Homo sapiens: one gene and its partners. The protein of the gene in region 3 purifies or fractionates together with the protein of the main gene of each other region. This does not show direct contact. Each region holds a gene or a part of one and is shown on either strand. Other genes may lie near its edges.

Region 1 (5,190 bases), on a different chromosome or scaffold from region 3:
ACTTCTATTAGCAAAATAAGAACATACTTGATCTATATTTCACCATGTTTCATACAGTTTTTCAGTATTTATGTAGAATGACTGGCAAAGGGGATATTAAATTGGGATTTTGCAGATTTAGATTCATCACTGGCTAATGTAATGACTTTAGTCAATTCAATGTATGGACACTAGTATCATTTCTAAAGTTTCTGTTCAAGTTTATCTTGTTTTGTAAAGAAACAAATATACCTTAGAACACATTGATGGTTTGCACCAACTTTACCAAATGACTTCCACTATAATTTTCCTGATGGCAACTGTCAGAGCGAAAATGACTACAGACAGGATAGAAACTAGACTACCTTAAACTTTTGTTTAAATACTAGGGAAAAAGAAGAATACTAAGTAATAATTAAATTTTTGCTGTTTAACCTGCCCCAATTTTTACAATATACAATACTGCAAAAAAACGGGTCAAGATGTCTAGGCAACACTTATGGAGACCTTTTAATCTGGCCACTTCATTTTACAATGCATAAAATCACAGGCCAGAGAGGTTAAAGGATTTGCCAATACCAGACAGTTGGTAAGCAGCAAAAAATGCGACAAGAACCCAAGTCTACTATTACTCAACCCAGCTTTCCTTCTAATAATATAGCACAGCCACATCAATGAGAAATAAGTTTCACAAATGTTTCTAAGAGAAGTTATTTAAAATGTTGAGTGTTTGAGGAAGATTTAAGTCATTCATTTCTGTATTTTCTAATTTTATTAATGTGAACTCTGTGAGGAATTTCCATCATGGTCAAAATGCCCCTAGCTAGTTGCTACAGATGACAGACACCTTTTGACAATAAGTAAAACAGAATGCAGAATGGAAGCTACTAAATAAATCAGTGTCTCTATATTGTACACACATCCTAGACACCAGGAACACCAAAAGTTCTCCCAGTTGTCATGTTGGATACAAAGCAATCTCTGGGAAGAGAGACATTTGGCATGCCTTCATACTGCAGGGAAAGTGAGGCTTCCGGCTCCTTTGTGCTTCCATTTTATTTCCCCATCCATGATTAACAGGCCCCTCCCACTTCTATACAGGAATGTTTATAGGGCCAGCCTTTTGTTTTAGTCAGGGCTTAAGTTTTAGCAGACAAGGAACTTATAAATAAAGGCAGTGTTAGGGCTTCCTGTTGGTCCCTTCCCACTGTTTCCCTGAGGTTTAGTCAATTAAATTTTTAAAAAATTTTTAAACATTCTCAGTCATGAAACTCAAAGGCTCTGCTTTAGTATAGTTCAATTTAAATCTTTTTCAAACAATTTACTTCATTGTTTACAATTAACAGAGATAACTTGTATTCAAATATATATAATAATTAATTAATCAATGGTTTGGTGTTCAGTCATCTCTCTTTTGACATGGCATATATCACTGTGAGCAGGTGTTGACTATGAACAAGGAGAAAAAGCAGAATTTCAAATCATGACTCTCTCTGGGACCAAATAACAAGGAAATCAAAACTTAAATTCAATTGTAAAAAGTAAAAGTTCAGAATAAAAAGTAAGATGAAACTCAACTCAAAGGACAAAAGGGATACAACTTGGGGTCTAGCTTATATCAAGAGAAATCTCATGTTAGCTCTCCCTTCCCTCAATTTATTGCTGCTGTAAGGATATAATCACACTGCTATTATAAACATTCTTTCCCACCTTCCTCCACTACCCAAACCATTCCTAGTCACTCTTTTAAATATTAGCAGTGATTGTTTTGCAAAGCAATGCAGTATACAAATTTGGATTTATAGGGGAATTCTGAATATCACATCCTCTCCTCTAGAATCCTTCTTACATTTAAAAGATAGATACTCTCAAGCACCCCCTCACTGAGCACTGCCTCTACTGATTTAACTTCCTTATAAGCACACCCATATGTATGCAGGTATGGAACAGTGGCCAAATTCTTTCTGTGAACCTTGATATAATAATCATGTTTTACTCATTAAAAAATCAGTTCAATATTTTAAGCCCCTCAAGACAAAAATATATTAAAATGTACAATGAATATGTAATGAGAACATTTCATCATATTTTGGTTAAAAAAATCCTTAACCATCTTAAAAAAGCTACAACACATTCAAATTCAAAAGTAATTGTTTAAAATCAATTAATGCTATAAGATTAAGTATTAGACAAAAGTATTCTCATTACCTAAATAAGTCGATTCATATCTTATTAGAGTTCTTACCTATGGTAATTCTTGAAATAATTGACACTTTGTTTTCTAATAGATTCCTGTAAAACTTCAGACTTGCTACCACAAAATTCTTCTCCAACTTGCATCAACCTAGTTGGATAAAAAGGTTTCAGTAAATTTCAGCAGCAGCCTTATAGAGAAAAAGAAGTGTGGTTTCTCTTTCTTCAAAGATAAAAAAAATCACTAAAATTTGGACATGTGAAAAAATTCTAAAGATCACAAATCCATAAAGGTTTACAAACACCCAAAGGGCAGAAATATTTAAATACACTCACAAACTTAGCAGCAAAAATTATCTTCATTTCCATAAAGAAGTTATAGATGATAACTCACTAGCTCATGATTTATCATGGTTGAATGACTCAAACTAAAGAATAAGACAAGATCTTAAATACTACCTGCTGATTATATCCAAAACAAAGATGAAATCATCATATTTGAATATAGACAAATCAGTTCCAAGCAAGTAGGTTTTTACTTTTAGCTGAACATCCTGTAAGGCAAAGAAAAAGAAAATCAAGCAAACCCAAAATATAGAAAATAAGTTATCAGAAGCATTTACTCTATAGTTCCAGATTAAAATGAGACAGGAATATATTCCTAATTTGTTAACGAATATCTATTTAGGCCAATAGCCAACATCCTTAAGGGATGTAATAGAGACAATCCCATTTCCTATACCAGGAATGCCATCAGGTTGCCAAACTGAATGGAAAGTAGCTACATAAAGTGCTAAGTCAGTATTTCAAAGTACACTGAATTACCAGAAATTCTATCATAGATTGTAAAATTTTACCAAAGTACACTTAAGGCCTATTGGGAGACTAAGTCAGAAACAAATCATATCTGATCCTGGGTGTATATTCAATAACTATAAGATTTTCCTTTCTTTTTATGCATAATACTCAGAAAACAGTCAGCCTAAATCCACAATTAATGATAAATTAAATATTTAATTTTAATAAATGTTTAATATGGTTATGAGTTTAATATAGACAAATGAGAAAATATATGTCAAACCTCTTACAACCACAAAAATAAATTTTAAATACTAAAGCATAAAATCAAATAGCATATCGAATACAAAATTATCAAAAATTAGAAGAGCACTAAATTATAAATATTAACTGATTCATGAAGAAATTTATGTTTTCAAAATATATTTTCCTAAACAATTTTTTTCAAAACATATCCTATAAAAGATGGTCAAGCTGGGCATGGTGGCTGATGCCTGTAATCCCAGCACTTTGGGAGGCCAAGGCAGGAATATCACTTGGGCCCAGGAGTTCAAGACCAGTCTGGGCAACATAGCAAGACCCCATATCCACCAATAATAATTTAAGAAAATTAGGCATGGTGGTGCACATCTGTGGTCCCAGCTACTCAGGAGGCTGAGGCAGAAGGATCACCTGAGCCCAAGAGGTCGAGGCTGCACTGGGCCATGACTCTGCCACCACACTCCAGCCTGGGTGACAGAGTGAGACCCTGTCTCAATCAATCAATCAATCAATCAAAAGAAAGAAAGAAAAAAAAAGATGGTCAAAATAAAGATCAGCCTCATTAGAAAAATCAAAAATACATTTTAAAAGACCATAACATGGCCAAAGGGTCTATAGTCTTCCAAGGTTCAAAGAAGTCCAAAAAGAGTAAGTTATCTTCAAAGAAATTACACTGTGATCTAAGAAGTAACAAATTATCTGATTACAACAACTGAGTTACTAAATTGTAAAGAAAAACTTAATAAGATACTGCTATGGTCTGAATGTTCATGTCTACCCAAAATTCCGAAGCTGAAATTCTAACCTCCAAGGTGATAATATATTAGAAGGTGGGGCCTTTGTGAGATGATTAAATCGTGAAGGTAGAGCCCTCATTAATTAGATTAGTTCCCCTATAGAAGGGACCCCAGAGAGCTCCTTCATCCCTTCCACTATTTGAGGATACAGCAAGACAATGTCTATGAACCAGGAAGCAGGCCCTCCCTCCCAACAATGCTGGCACCCTGATCTCTGACTTCCAGCCTTTAGAATTCTAAGAAATAAACTTCTCTGTTTATAAACTATGCAGTCTAGAATATTTTGTTATAGGAGCCCAAATGGACTAAAACCAGATATATTCAGCCAATAAGCATGTAAGATTCCCTCAAGGTACAAAGATCATTGACTGAGAAAAAAAGAATTATTCATTCTAAACTATAATCTGACCTAAGTATGCTATCTACTTAGTTACTCCTTTTCTAAAATTAACAGAAAAAAAAATTAAGAAAACACAGATAAATGAAATAATAAACAGAACATCTCACTGAGAAAGCATACATTTCTCTATGATAGTGGAAATTTGCTAGGCCTCTAAAACAAAAGATGTACTCAAGACATGTATGAATATTTCCAGTGGAGATTTTCAAATTAAAAAACTTTTTTCCTGCCACTTATAGTCCAAATACATTACAGAAATTAAATGATAGCCTAATTCCAAACAGAAACATATGATTAAATCTGCAAAGAATACATATATAGAAAACTTAAAACTGAATTTCTAAAACTATGACATGACATTTCTATTGCTTCTGTGAAAAAAATAATTTTAAAAAAACCAAACCTGCCATATTCGTGTAAGTCCATGTTCTAATTTCTTTTTTATGTAGCCACGATCAAAATTAGTTTCTTCAGTACCTATCATATTACTCCCTTCTGAAAATAAAAGACAATATATATTTTTAGATTTAATCCAATTTGTGTTTGTTTTCCAAATAATTTCTATTTGGCCTCTCACACATTGTAAGTCTATGTAAGATACAGTAAATATGTTTGATATTTATACAATCAAAACAATATCAAACAATAGGTATTAGACTTAAACCCATTTGGTGAGACAAATAAACGTAGACTATGAAATGCTAAATATACCTAAGACCACTGAGATCATATGTGACTGAGTTGGGATTCTACCTGAGTCAG
Region 2 (5,190 bases), on a different chromosome or scaffold from region 3:
CTCAGAAAAAAAAAAAAAAAAAAAAAGAATGAGAACACAAGGGAGATTACTGGGCTCATTCCGGCTCCACCATTCACTAGCTGTGTGACCTTGAGCAAGTTACTTAACCTCTCTCTGTCTCAGTTTTCTCATTTATGGAAGAGTACCTATTTCTTTGGGTTGTTGTGAGGATTGAAAGTGTTAATGTATATAAAGCAGGCAGAACAGTTCCTAGCACATAGTAAGAACAGTATCAGTGTGGCCTAATGTCTTGCTCCCAAGCTGTCCACGTTAATCCCTGGAAAAAAATACCACCAGATAATCTCCTTCAAGTCATCTCTTTCATTACAGCACACCGCTTGTTCCTAAAAGTAAAATGCAGACTTTGGTATCTGTTGTTCTTTATAGTCTAGCCTTGGCTTTTTTAAGTGACCTTAGGAGAAAAATATGAATGGCATTTGGGCCTTGCCTTTGAGGCTCTTAGCATATAGTCAGAGAAATGAGACAGACAGCACCCTGCATAGTAATAGGTACAGCCATAGAAATAGTGCCAGGCATAGAGAACGGATGATTAATTCTCATGTGGGCGCAAGGACAGGCATCACTGAGTAGATGACAACCGAGGTGGGTTTGAAAAGATGAATTAATGTTTGCCAGGTAATGAAGGGAGGAACAAAGAGGAAACAATCTGTGCACAGGTGCAGGGGTGTGGAGCCACATGGCTTGCTTGGTGCTATTGGACAAAACGTGCACGGAGGGGAAGGGCTGAACCATGAAGACCATTTGTTCTGTGGGGACACAGTGAAGAGCTCTGAGTTGGGTGGGGCAGGCTCGGATTGGCATTCTAGGGGAGATCGCAGAGCTGGCAATGTGGGAGGTAGATGGGATGGGAGGAAGCCCAGAAGGAGCCCTGGGCAGTGGCCATTCCTCGGCACACTTGCTCGTGTGATGGCCATGGGTGTGTTTTCCCTCGGCTTCTGTACTGACACCTAGCCAGTGTTTGGTAAGGAGGTGTGCTCCTCAGAATCACCTGGGAGCTTTTCAACATAGTCATGCTCCACCCCCAGAGATTCTAATTTGGTTTTTCCAGACAGCACAGTCCAATAAAAACATAATGCAAACCACAAACATGAGCCACATATATAATTTCATATTTTCTGGTAGCCAGACTTTAAAAAATAAAAATAAATGTAAAATTAACTCCAAAATATTTCAGCATGTAATAATTATAAACAACTAATAAGTTCGTTCACATTCTTTTATTTTTCTATACTGTCTTTGAAATCCTGTGTGTATTTAACACTTACAGCACATTTCAATTCAGAAAAGCCACATTTCAAGTGCTCAGTACCTGCATGCAGCTAGTGGCTAATGCATTGGACAGCACAGATCTAGAATGGGGTCCAGGAATCTGTAGGTTGATCATGCATCCAGGGTATTCTGGCCTACAAGCCAGGTTGAGAACTTAAGGCAGTCCGGCTCCCACCTTGCCTTCCCAATATCCATATCCTACCCATCCTTCAGTGCCAGCCCAAGTTCCTTCTCCTCTGGGAAGCACAGGTTGTCTTTGCCATTTATTTGGCACTAATCATACATCACCCTGTCCTATTATTAATCTTTTCTTGGTGCACCTCCATTTGCCCTTTGTTAGCCATAAGCGTCTATTGGGCAAGAACCCCATACTATATTTCTTTTCATCCCCAGAGTACCTAATCCATTTATTTAGTAGCACACTCTGTGATTTATAAACATTTCCAGACTGACAACACACCTGTCCATGCTGCATCTGTTAAAGCCTAAACTTGGGAGATATTTATCTCATGTCATCATTATAAAACAGTGAGGCAGGCAAGAAAAGGCTTTGCTCAAGGTCACACTCCCCCTCCTGACAGACAACACTGCTCTCAGTTTATCACATTTTGTGTATTGATTTGCAGCTGGACTTCCAGTTAAAACAGATATAACCCCTGGGCCATCTCGATTATGTTCTGGAGCACGACGTTCTTTCTTCTGTAGGATGAAGTGTAACAGGCCTTCAGTAAAGGTTGAAGACAAGGACTTCCCCTCTACCTGCTCAAAGAAAAAAGGTAACAATTTAACAGTCCATTAAAACCCTGTGACAGGTGAAGCATGCTTTCTGCAGCGGAGCTCTCAGCTGGGCGTTGGTTCCATGGTTTCTGGCTGGCCAGAGTGGCAGGTCCCAGGACTGCAGACAGGACCCTGCAGTCCTCCCTATGTGTAGGGCAGTTGGGAGCAGAGGAGAGAGCTGAAAAGCCTGATGGCAGAGATTTGTGGAGAGGCCTCCTCTGTTTAAATTGTGTTTCTTTTAACATGATTGAGGAAGAATACTCTCAGCCACAATCCTAACTGCCTTATGAACAGCCACCAGTCCACCAAAATTACTCTGAGCTCACCAGTGACCTTGATGTTGTTAAATGCGATGAACATTTTTCCTTTGTCTTCCTTCTTGAAGTGTTCTCTTCTCCTGGATTCCATGAAACCACATTCTTCTTCCTCCTCCCCGACCCCCTGCTGCTACAGGCTCTCTTGCTGGCCCCTTTGCTGGCTGCCCCTCTCTGTCCTGGGCTGCATCTCTGTCTGCAGTCTCTCTCTGTTGGTCATGTCATCTACTCCCTCAGCTTTAAATGCCAACAACTTCCACATTCATATTTCCAGCCTAGACTTGTCTTTTGAACTCCAGATTCATAAATATACTGCTTACTAAATCAACCTGCTTTGGATATCTCAGGGGAGTCTCCAACAGGATACGTGCCGAAGTAATCACCTGAGCCTCTCCTCCAGCATAAATGGCACTGCCATTCAGCTGGCTGCTCATGCTAGAAGCCGGGGAGGTGCCCTCACTTCTGCTTCACCACCCCACTCTTCAATCCCGTTAGTTATGAAGTCCTGCCACAATGAGTCCCATCTGCAAAAGTTCTCTGAAATGTTTGTCCCTTTCCATGCTGCCTACTTTCACTCAGCTCCAGGCTGCCCCCAACTCTCACCAGGTCTCATAAAGTGTAGACCCACATGCTCCCCACCCCCAACACAGCAGCCAGGATGATCTTTTTATCAGTCCCCTTTTAAAAACCCTTCAGTGTTCCCTATTGTTCTTGAAGAAAAGCTCAAAATATTTAACGTGACCATGCAGCCCCCGACCCTGCCACTAAGCACATGTGAGCCATGTTGACTTCCTTTGATGCCTCAAGCCCCTTCTGGGCAATGCTTCTGCACATGCTGTCGCTTCCTGGTTGGAATTTCTTCCCTCTCCCCATGAACTCCCTTCACATGGCTCTCTCCAACCTCAGACTGCCTTATGTCTTATAGCACCCTACTGGTTTGCTTTCTAGTGCTTTCTTATACTTGCTGTTATATAGTTATTTGTGCGATTATTTGTTTAAAGTCTGTCTCCCCCACTAGGCTGTAAACTCCACAAGGGCATGTCTGATTTGTTTTTCACTCTATTCCAGTAACCAGCACAGACTCCACGCTTGGCAGACACTCCATAGTGGTTTGCTTGTTGGTGAAGTCTATAGGTGCTCCACATTTAATGTGTCCCAAATCGAACTATCTTTTTTCTCTCTCTCTCTTCTAGTCTGTTTTCTTTCTTCTCTGAGTCAGTGAATGACACCAGCAACCACCCAATCCAGAAAAGTTAGAGTCATCTTCATTTGTTTCTTTCCCTTAAGCCTGATATTCACAGCAAATCCCAACAGTTTGATCTCAGAAATTTCTCCTGCTTTCTTTCTCTGCTCCCTCTCATCTTCACTGCACTGCCATAGTTCAGTCCTCCTAATCTCTTGCTGTATTATAGCCACTGGCCCCTGAATCAGCCTTCCTACTTCTGTTTTCTACTGTCTTCCAGTTCATACGTCACTCTGCTCCTACAGCATCCAAACCACAATTTGATTTTGCTGTTTCTGCACTTAAATACCTGTAGATGCTCTCCATTTCCTGCCTTAAAAAGACAGACCAACATTGGTTAGAAAGTAATCCAAGGCCCTTTTAATCTTCCTCCAACCTGCCTTTCCAATTTGCCCCTCACTCCCAGTACCTCCAATTTCACTTCAACCACACAGAGCTCTTGGCCAGTTCCTATATAGGCTGTGCCTCTGTGCCTGTGTACGTCATCAGCCTTTATACATTCTAGTCCCTCAGCCACTGCTCATCCTTCTTGATCCACCTCCTCTACTGGTTTTTTGGGGGAGCCTTCCTCTCCCTAGGAAGAGTTAGATATTCCTTCCTTGGTGTATGTAATGAATGTCCATGGTATAACTGGCCCTACTTAAGCATTCTGACACTGGATGACAGTTTGTTTCTCTTTCCGTCTGCCCCTTTCATTAGATGCTTACTTCTGGAGAGTGAAGCCTTGATTTTTTTTTATTTTTTGACTCCCTACCTACATCCCATCCCACCATCGGCCGTGTACACCTCCATGGCCCAAACCTAGTGCTGACACTAACCACGAACTTTGCTTTCTAGCAGATCGAAAAAGCTTCTGCACAATCCACAGCACAGGCTATTTGAAAAGCTGGCCACCCACAAAGATGGGGCTGGATGAAGACAACGAACCAGACAATGAGGGGTGTAACCTCAGCTGCCTCGTCGCAATTGGACGACTGCATTCTCATGTAGTTCCACAACCAGTGAACGGGGAAATCAGGGTGAAATCTATGGAATATGTTTCTCGGCACGCGATAGATGGAAAGTTTGTTTTTGTAGACCAGAGGTAAGAGTCTACATACTACCCTTGAGCAATGATGGTAGAGGATTTTCAACCCTGATCTAAAAAGCAGAGAAGACTGGGCCATCAGCTGGCTTTTCTAAGAATGAAGAAAGAAAGAAAAAGCTGGGTGCAGTGGCTCACACCTCAAATCCCAGCACTTTTTGAGGCCAAGGTGGGTGGATCACTTGAGCCCAGGAGTTTGAGACTAGCCTGGGCAACGTGGCAAAACCCTGTCTCAACTAAAAATACAAAAATTAGCCAGGCATGGTGACACATACCTGTAGTCCCATCTACTCTGGAGGCTGAAGCAGGAGGATCAGCTGAGCCTCGGGAGGTCAAGGCTGCAGTGAGCTGTGATTGCACCACTGCACTTCCGCCTGGGCAACAGAGTGAGACCCTGTTTCAAAAAAAAAGAGACAAATGATGAGAGTCTCTGTTAAAAAATGAGATTCAATAGGATATCATCATAAATACAGAGATTTTTC
Region 3 (5,190 bases):
TGTAGACATGAGGTTTTGCCATGTTGCCCGGGCTTCAAAGAAGATTTTTTTAAAAAGGCCGGGCACGGTGGCTCACGCCTGTAATCCCAGCACTTTGGGAGGCCAAGGCAGGTGGATCACGAGGTCAGGAGATCGAGACCATCCTGGCTAACACAGTGAAACCCCGTCTCTACTAAAAAATACAAAAACAAAATCAGCCTGGCGTGGTGGCAGGCGCCTGTAGTCCCAGCTACTCGGGAGGCTGAGGCAGCAGAATGGCGTGAACCCGGGAGGCGGAGCTTGTAGTGAGCCAAGATTGTGCCACTGCACTCCAGCCTGGGTGACAGAGCAAGACTCCGTCTCAAACACTCACACACACACACACACACACACACACACACACACACACACACACACAATACTTTGCAGGGAAAATTAAAAACCTGAAAGGAAAAACGTGGTAGGAGGGAAAAGTAAGGGCCTGTAGATTGGGAAGATGATAACGTTGAGAGAAGGCTAACAAGGCAGAGTAAATCACCTGCACTATGCATGGAAGTGAATGAGGGGCTTAGCCACTATGGATCTCTGGTTCCCACTGGAAAAATAAGGAAGTTGGACCAAGTATATCTCAGGCTCCTTCTGGATTCCATTCTGTGACAGCGTGAGGATGGAGTATATGCCTCTCCCAGACAATGAAGAGAAATAGGTGCTGGGCTATCCAAGAATGAAAGTGATCTTGAGGTCATCTGGTCATCCCCTGCCTTGAGGCCCAGCTGCATAAATGACATCTTACTGGTAACAGGTTTTAAGGAACCCTCTTAACCTTCCAAATGTCTAGAGAAGATAACGTTCCAACTTGGTGGAGAAGAAATCAGTCTTTGGTGAGATACTTAACTCTTGATGTTTTTATCTGTAAAAGGGGTATATTACCATCCAACTGAGGGTTTTTTGTTTGTTTGAGATGGAGTCTTGCTCTTGTCTCCCAGGCTGGAGTGCAGTGACACGATCTTGGCTCACTGCAGCCTCCGTCTCCTGGGCTCAAGCAATTCTCCTGCCTCAGCCTCCCAAGTAGCTGGGATTACAGGCATCTGCCACCACACCTGGCTAATTTTTGTATTTTTAGTAGAGACGGGGTTTCGCCACATTGGCCAGGCTGGTCTCGAACTCCTGACTTTGTGATCCTCCCGCCTCAGCCTCCCAAAGCGCTGGGATTACAGGCGTGAGCCACCGCACCCGGCCCCCAACTGAGGGTTTTTTTGTTGAATATTACTTAAAAATATTGCCGGTGTGCTGGCTCATGCCTGTAATCCCAGCACTTTGGGAGGCCGAGGTGGGAGGATCACCTGAGGTCAGGAGTTCGAGACCAGCCTGGCCAACATGGTGAAACCCCATCTCTACCAAAAATACAAAAAAATTAGCCAGGCGTGGTGGTGGGCGCCTGTAATCCCAGCTGCTCAGGAGACTGAGGCAGGAGAATCGCTTGAACCAGGGAGGCGGAGGTTAAAGTGAGCTGAGATCGCGCCACTGCACTCCAGCCTGGACGACAGAGTGAGATGCTGTCTCAAAAAGAAAAAGAAAATGAGAAAATGTATGGAGGTTACTCTCTGCCACACAGGAGGGTGGCACTGAAACATCAGCATCCTCCCACTTTTTGGATTGGGAAGACAGAAGACACTGTCACAATGGCCCTTAAACCTTCCCAACCCTAGCAAAGTAGCTGGTTTTATGAAAACACTTAATTCCTATGAAATAAAAGCCACATCCTTAGAGTGGCATGCAAGGCTTTCCACAGTCTGGGTAAACTCACACCTCTTGCTACCATCTCTCAGTGCCCTATCCAATACATTCCATGGTTTCCAACTTCAGTGCCTTTGCTCCCATCATTTCCTGTGCCTTAAATATCTATTCTTCCCATTTTCACCTAAGGCGTCTCCAAGTTCCTCAAGTTCATGTTCAAATGCCTCATCTTCCAAGATGCTACCCCGCATCCTGTGGGAAACACATCTTCCCCTCCTTGAGCTCCCACAGCGTCACAAGGCCTCCCATGGCATCTGCCTCTCAGTTATTTGTGTTTTGTGAAGAATTACCCCTTCTGTTAACTCCTCAAGAGCTGTTGTATGCCACAGCCCTTAGCAAAGGTATTTTCTGAATGCACAGAGAATGCTCCATGACATCTAGGTCAAGAAAATATTACAAAAGAAAAAAGAGGAAATGATTTCAAAATAGCCAGAATGGCTGCCAAATTCTTCCTTCCCAGGACATACCTGCACTTTTATTAAAACAGTATCTCGACCAGGGGCAGTGGCTCATGCCTGTAAACCCAGCACTTTAGGAGGCCAAGGTGGGTGGATCACCTGAGGTCAGGAGTTTGAGACCAGCCTGGCCAACATGGTGAAACCCCGTCTCTACTGAAAATATAAAACTCAGCTGGCTGTGGTGGCAGGCACCTGTAATCCCAGCTACTAGGGAGGCTGAGGCAGGAGAATCGCTTGAACCTAGGAGGTGGAGGTTCCAGGGAGCCAAGATCATACCACTGCACTCCCGCCTGGGCAACAGAGCAAGACTCCGTCTCAAAAAGAAAAAAAAAAAAAAAGGACACTATCTCCCCATAGTGTTCTATGGAGGCAGGCTGGGAAAAGGCAGGGCATCCTTCAGTCAGAACAAAGGGGTTATTAGCTAATGAAGGTCAAGTCTGGTCTGTTTCATAAACCTACGCATTCCAATTGGAAGAGCATAGACAACTAGGCTGGGTTGGGGCACTGAGAGATGATTCCATCCAGCCATCAGAATTCCAGGTAGAGAGGAGAAAGAGGGTCAGTTGAAAATGTTCTCAAAGAAATAATGACCAAAAATTTTCAAAATTTGGCAAAAGACACAAATCTATAGATTCAAGAAGCCAAGCAAACTTCAAACAGAATAAACATGAAATTCATGCCATGATAGATCATAATTAAATTTCTGATAACTAAAGACAAAGAAAAAGTCTTGAAAGCAGAGAAAATAACCTTTGAGGGGATCCCTCAAAGGTTATTTTCTCTTCGGAAATGACAGAGAGTAGAAGGAAGTGGCATACTATTTTTCAAATGCTGAAAGAGAAGAACGGTCAATTCAGAATTGACAAAGGAAAATATCCTGTAACAAAGGAAAATATCCTTCAGAAATGAGGGGGAAATCAAGACATTCTCAGATGAAGGAAAACTAAGAGAATTTCTCACCAGCAGACCTACACTAAAAGAATGGCTTAAAAAGTTCTCTAAACAGAAAGGAAATTATTTTTTAAAAAAAGGAAACTTGAAATAATGGGAAGAAAGAAACATGAGTTGAAAAAAGATGGGTAAATACAACAAGATTTCCTTCCCCTCTTAGGTTTTCTTTTTTTTTTTTTAAGTTTTTTTGCTGTAAGTTTATTCAATGCAAAATAATCCTCTCCAATTTTACTGAGGTGGCTGACCACATCCTCAACCAAATCCACCTCTAAACTGGAATTCGGTTGCTGACCCAGCCCCAGCCTCAGCTTTGCTGTCGGCACCAGGCGGCACAGCACTCCGTCTGTAGGTTATCTCTGTCCGCTTTCCCTCTTGTGAGTCTTGCAGGTCGCTCACCCTTCAGACCTTTAGGCTGAGGACTTCCAGTCTCTGGACGGCTGCAGCATAGAGTGGCAGGCACAATCTCCGGGGCAGATGAAGGTAATCACGGAGATACTGGATGCCCTCATTGGTAACGTACCAGTGGAAATGTCTCCAGGCAAACTGTTCCTTCACGTAGCCTCGGGACTTGAGAGGCTGCATGGCCTTCATGACATGAAGATTGGGCACATCCTTGTCTGCCAGCTCCCGGTGCTTAGGCATGTGGACATCCTTCTTGGCCACCATGACTCCCTCCTTAAAAAGGAGTTCATAAATGGCAATCCGGTTCTTAGGCATCAACATCTCGGTGGCTGTAGGGGCCGGGGCTGGGGCTGGAAAGCCCCTCTTAGGTTTTCTAAGTTACATTTGATGATTAAAGCAAAAAGTATAACAATGTCTGATGTGGTTCTAAATGTATGCAGAGAAAATATTTAAATATGATAATATTATACTATTAAATATTTAGTATCATAAATGGGAGAAGGTAAAGGGATGTAAAGGAAGGAAAGGTTTCTCTTCTTCACTCAAACTAGTAAAATGCCAACACCAGGAGACTGTGATAACCTATGTATACATAATGTATAATACCTAGAGTAACCACTAAAAAGTCTATACAAAGAGATAACACTCAAAAACATTATAAATGAATAAAAATGGAATCCTAAAAAGTGTTCAGTTAATCCACAGGAAGGCAGGAAAAAGAAAACAGATAAATGAAAAACAGAACCGGGCATCATAGCTCACATCTGTAATCTCAGCATTTTGTTTGGTTTTTGAGACTAATTCTGTTTCTGTCACCCAGGCTGGAGTACAGTGACGCAATCTCGGCTCACTGCAACCTCTGCCTCCCAGGTTCAAGCAATTCTCCTACCTCAGCCTCCCACGTAACTGAACTGGGATTACAAGCTCCCGTGACAATGCCTGGCTAATTTTTATATGTTAATATAGAGGGGGCTTCACCATGTTGGCCAGGCTGGTCTCGAACTCCTGACCTCAAGTGATCCATCTGCCTTGGTCTCCCAAAGTGCTGGGATTACAGGCGTGAGTCACTGTGTCCGGCCTGTAATCTCAGCATTTTGGGAGGCCAAGGTGGGAGGATTGCTTGAGGCCAGGAGCTTGAGACCAGACTGGGCAACAAAGTTGCCCCTCTCTTCAAAAAAACATGTTTTTTTCTTATCCAGGCATGGTGTTGTGTGCCTGTTGTCCCAGAAACTCAGGAGGTTGAGGTGGGAGGATTACTTGAGCTGGGGAGGTTGAGGCTGTAGCTAGCTGCTATCATACCACAGCACTCCAGCCTGGGCTACGGAGTAGGACCCTGAGGAGAGGAGCTGGGGGGTGGGAAGGGAGGAGACGGGGAGGGGGAGGAGAAAGGAAGGGAAGGGAAGGCAGGGAGGGAAAGGGAAAAGGAAGGAAAGGGAAGGGAAGGGGAAAGGGGAAAGGAAAGGGAAAAAGCAGCTTTATTTGTAACAGCCAAAAACTAGAAACAACCCAGATGCCTTCAGTAGAGAAATGGTTAAACAAACTGTGGCACATCTGTTATTGTGGAATACTACTCAGCAATAAAAAGGATCAAACTATTGATACA
Region 4 (4,000 bases), on a different chromosome or scaffold from region 3:
ATCCATTTTCCAGAAAAGAAACTGGTTGAGAAAAGTAATGTCTTCATGATCATACAATATGCTAGATATGGAATTCAAAAATCTAAACCTAGATCTGAGTGAGAAATCTGCTTTCTACTATAGCAGTTGTTTTCAAAATATAATGTGCATCAGAACACCTGTGGTACTTACTCCAAATGGAGATTCCCAGACAGCTTATTGGAATATGCATTGTTATAAATACATCATGTAATGTGATGGTGGTCCAGGATAATTAAGAACAAGAGCTCATTAGTTCTGTTAAGTAGCATGTTCAAATCTGCACTAGTTACTGAAAACTGCCAACTCAAGAAAATCAAACTATGTATCTTTATAATAAATTAGTATTCATTTGTTGTTTTTATCTGGGTATAAACCAGAATAGTACATTACTGTGATCCTAGAATTCTTATCTACGAGGCTCACAGATAAGGTATTCCAGGAGTATTTGATAAATGCAGGTGGTTCTTGCTAACTTTGAATCTGGTAAAATATAAGCCTACCTTCCCTGAATTAATCATAAAATAAAATTTATCATAAAATTTTTTTAAAAGGAAGAAAATACTGTATTTCTTGTGTGCACGAAGTCAACCCAAAGTGAGGCTGCAACTATGAAGAGAATACCAGCTAAGGGACTCCAATCAAATCTCAGAATGCCACTTTGTACCTATGACTTTGGACAAATTATTTCCCTCTTACTTGAGTCTCAGGTTCATCATTTGTAAAATAAGCATAACAACATTCACCTCAGAGTTATTCATGGATCAAATGAGGTACTAAACACATTTGAAGGTGTCCCATAGAAGCTATAAAATGTTACACACATGGACAATAAATATGAAGGAAAATCTAAGACATATCATCTAACAGCAGCTGCAGTGATATTACCGGATACTTTCAGGTTGTTTTTGATGGAAATATTTCCACTTTAAGAGCTTTCTGGTCCTCACTGGATTTCTCAGCAGGGTGGAGTGTTCTGGATCATCCCTCAGTAGGCACAGGCATGACAGTGATCACTGTGTGTGGTAGAATGACCCCTGCAATTGTCTTTACTGTTAAAGTATACATCAAAAACTATAATCCCATTACCTTCAGCACCTAAAGAATTAAATATAACTTCCTGGAGCACTGTCCTATTACATTCTCCCTATATACCAACTATTGTATTAAGTTCTCTGGCCCCATCCTTGGAGCTAAGCATGGCAAGTCAACACCAATACCCTATTACAACATGAGTTTGTGGAGAAAGCATGTGATGAGGCATCAGAGACCCTCAAGTACTGAGACTGGCCTAGCCACTATCTGGCCATGTGACATTGGGTACAACATACCTGTAAAATAAGAAAATGTATTATATGTCACTAAGGACCCAATGAACTTTGGCATTCTGTTATTTTAAAACAATCGTGGCATTTTATAAGTCTATATAACTGTCTTCTTGGATATTTTCCTTCCCATTTTCCTAACGTTTCTCAAAACAGTAGAAAAAGTTTAAGCCCAATTAAACAGAAAGATACATTTGAAGTAAAGATTTCAAGTAGTTTCAGAATATGCTTATAATGAAATACACAGATAAAATAGTTGTTCAATTAAGAAACATTTATTCTTTTCTAAATGAAAGTGAAATTGCAGTTGTAAGTATGAACTAAGAAACATTGGTTTTACAAGATAACTAGCTATATGACCATGACCTTAAGGTGTGATATGGTTTGGCTCTGTGTCTCCACCCAAATATCTTGTATCTCCCATTATTCCATGTTGTGGGAGGGGCCTGGTGGGAAATAATTTAATCACGGGGGCAGGTCTTTCCCATGCTGTTCTCGTGATAGTAAGCCTCATGAGATCTGATGGTTTTAAAAATGGGAGTTTCCCTGCACAAGCTCTCTCTCCTTGTCTGCTGCCATCCATGTAAGATGTGACTTGCTCCTCTTTGCCTTCCACCATGATTGTGAGGCCTCCTTAGTCATGTGGAACTGTAAGTCCGTTAAACCTCTTTCTTTTGTAAATTGCCCAATCTCAGGTATGTCTTTATCAGCAGCATGAAAATGGACTAATACAAGGTGCTAGACAAGGTGATTAAAGGCTCTATAAATTCTAAATTGTGCAATTCTAAGACATTCTTGGCATTTTACATGTCTAGATGACTGCCATCTTTTTTTAAATATTTTTCCCTCACATGTTCCAGTCTATTCTCATTACAGAAGAATACGTTTAACATACAGTTACAGAAACAGAGGTTTTAAATAAATATTTAAAAGTAACTTCAAAATATATTTGCACTGAAATATGGAGGCAAAATTGTTTCTGAGTCAGGAAACATTTATTCTTCCCCATAAATTTAAATGGAGGTGAAACTGTGAATATGAAGCAAAGAACATTTATCTCACAAGGTAACTCTGAATTCTTTTAATTCTGAAACCAGAGACATGTACAACACTTACAGCATTCACACAACACTATTTTCAAAATAGGTTTTTGACCCCTAAAAATGAAAATTCTTAGTGACAAGCTTTAGATATGAAACTTAGCCCAGTGGGTATTCACTTTGTCACAAAAAGCAACTACAGACAAATAGTTTTTCCCTCTCCCCGACACAAAAACTGAAATTACAGACTTTTAAAGCAGAAAAAATTTTCTCCAAAATGCAAATGATTAAGGTCCAAGGAACAAATGAACAGAAGATCTCAATTATTCAATTGAGCGAGTGATTTAGTTTGCATATTAACTCCTTTTCTTACTACTTCCTGATATCTGATTCTGGCAATATTTATCTTGTATCTACTGGGCAAGACACTGGGAACACAAAGAAATTTTAGACAAGGTCCAGTGGTATGCTGGTAAAGGTTTAACAACTAGCTCTTAAGGGAAAGGTAGGTCTTCACTTATAGCATTTCTATGGTGTAAATACTCCAATTGCCGCAGATTTCAAGCTAGCAACAATTTGACAACTGTCTCACAAAATTCCTCAAACTAACGATTGTCACTCATAAGACATTACAAGCCAGCTCCAACACACCACCGTACAGTCTCCACCTTCAAGTAGTTCATAATCTCTTCATGGGTACCTATTTAAGGGGATATAAAAGAATGGGGAATATTGAGATATAATTTAAATCAATTATATTTTTTAGGTAGTTTTAAAAGTTAGAAGGAACATAAATTTCCATGGGATTTTCCTACTTCTTTTTTTTTTTGTCATGGCAAATAACCTCATATTTTATTCAAAAACAATACCCCCTCCCCAGTCATGCATTTATAATTAAAATATCCTATTTTAATACATTCTCCTTATCTCTACCTTAGTGAATTAAAAAAAAATCTCTTGACATAACTGGGTAATTGTAACAATTCTCTTGTAATTGCTTTGACTGTGGAAAACAGGCATATCAGATTGCAGTCCCTCACATGACAGGCACACCAGCAAGATAACAAAAGACAGATTGACAAGAGAACAGCATAAAATTTCATTTAATATAAGTTTTATCATATTAAATAATATATTAGGTATTTATTAAAACTTTTTATATAATATATATTAAAACTTATTTTTATATAATAAAATTTATTACATACAAATAAAACTTATTATATAAAAATTTGTTTTAAATGATTGGACAAAAAGGTATGGTCTAATGGTAATAAACTGGGGGAACTTGGCAAACTTGTTAGTAAACTTGGAAAAGTAAACTATCTGGACCCATCGCAAACCTGTTGATTCAGAATCCCTGGGATGGGACCAAACAATCTAGCTTAAAAGTCCTCCAGGTGATTCTGATGTAAACCATTTGAGAAATACTGGCACATGGGAAACTTTTACTGTTTATCTAAAGGACAGGCAGACATGGAAATGCAGGGAATATGTCAAGTAAGAAAAATAAGCAGTGACGCATGTGCCCTGACTTTAAATGTATGTAGAACAACAACAGTTGTTCAACAGTCTCAAATTGAATGAGACTATTCAACTGGATCTATTCAGAAACAT

What was found. The genes of interacting proteins can lie anywhere in the genome.
Region 1: the proteins of TUFT1 (region 3) and VPS50 purify together in Homo sapiens (affinity purification with mass spectrometry, with the first as the bait; one large-scale study listed by BioGRID). This does not show direct contact.
Region 2: the proteins of TUFT1 (region 3) and BMAL1 purify together in Homo sapiens (affinity purification with mass spectrometry, with the first as the bait; one large-scale study listed by BioGRID). This does not show direct contact.
Region 4: the proteins of TUFT1 (region 3) and DZIP3 purify together in Homo sapiens (affinity purification with mass spectrometry, with the first as the bait; one large-scale study listed by BioGRID). This does not show direct contact.

Annotation. Positions count from the first base shown.
Region 1 is NC_000007.14:93,294,278-93,299,467, reverse strand, and holds part of VPS50 (syndetin), read right to left. Parts: intron 4,924-5,190; coding exon 4,832-4,923; intron 2,727-4,831; coding exon 2,632-2,726; intron 2,324-2,631; coding exon 2,225-2,323; intron 1-2,224.
Region 2 is NC_000011.10:13,367,702-13,372,891, forward strand, and holds part of BMAL1 (basic helix-loop-helix ARNT-like protein 1), read left to right. Parts: intron 1-1,916; coding exon 1,917-2,066; intron 2,067-4,461; coding exon 4,462-4,708; intron 4,709-5,190. UniProt on the Homo sapiens protein: Transcriptional activator which forms a core component of the circadian clock.
Region 3 is NC_000001.11:151,556,164-151,561,353, reverse strand, and holds part of TUFT1 (tuftelin), read right to left. Parts: intron 3,946-5,190; exon of another isoform or gene 3,363-3,945; intron 1-3,362. UniProt on the Homo sapiens protein: Involved in the structural organization of the epidermis. Involved in the mineralization and structural organization of enamel.
Region 4 is NC_000003.12:108,692,443-108,696,442, reverse strand, and holds the end of DZIP3 (E3 ubiquitin-protein ligase DZIP3), read right to left. Parts: intron 3,084-4,000; 3' UTR 1,603-3,083; downstream 1-1,602. UniProt on the Homo sapiens protein: E3 Ubiquitin ligase proteins mediate ubiquitination and subsequent proteasomal degradation of target proteins.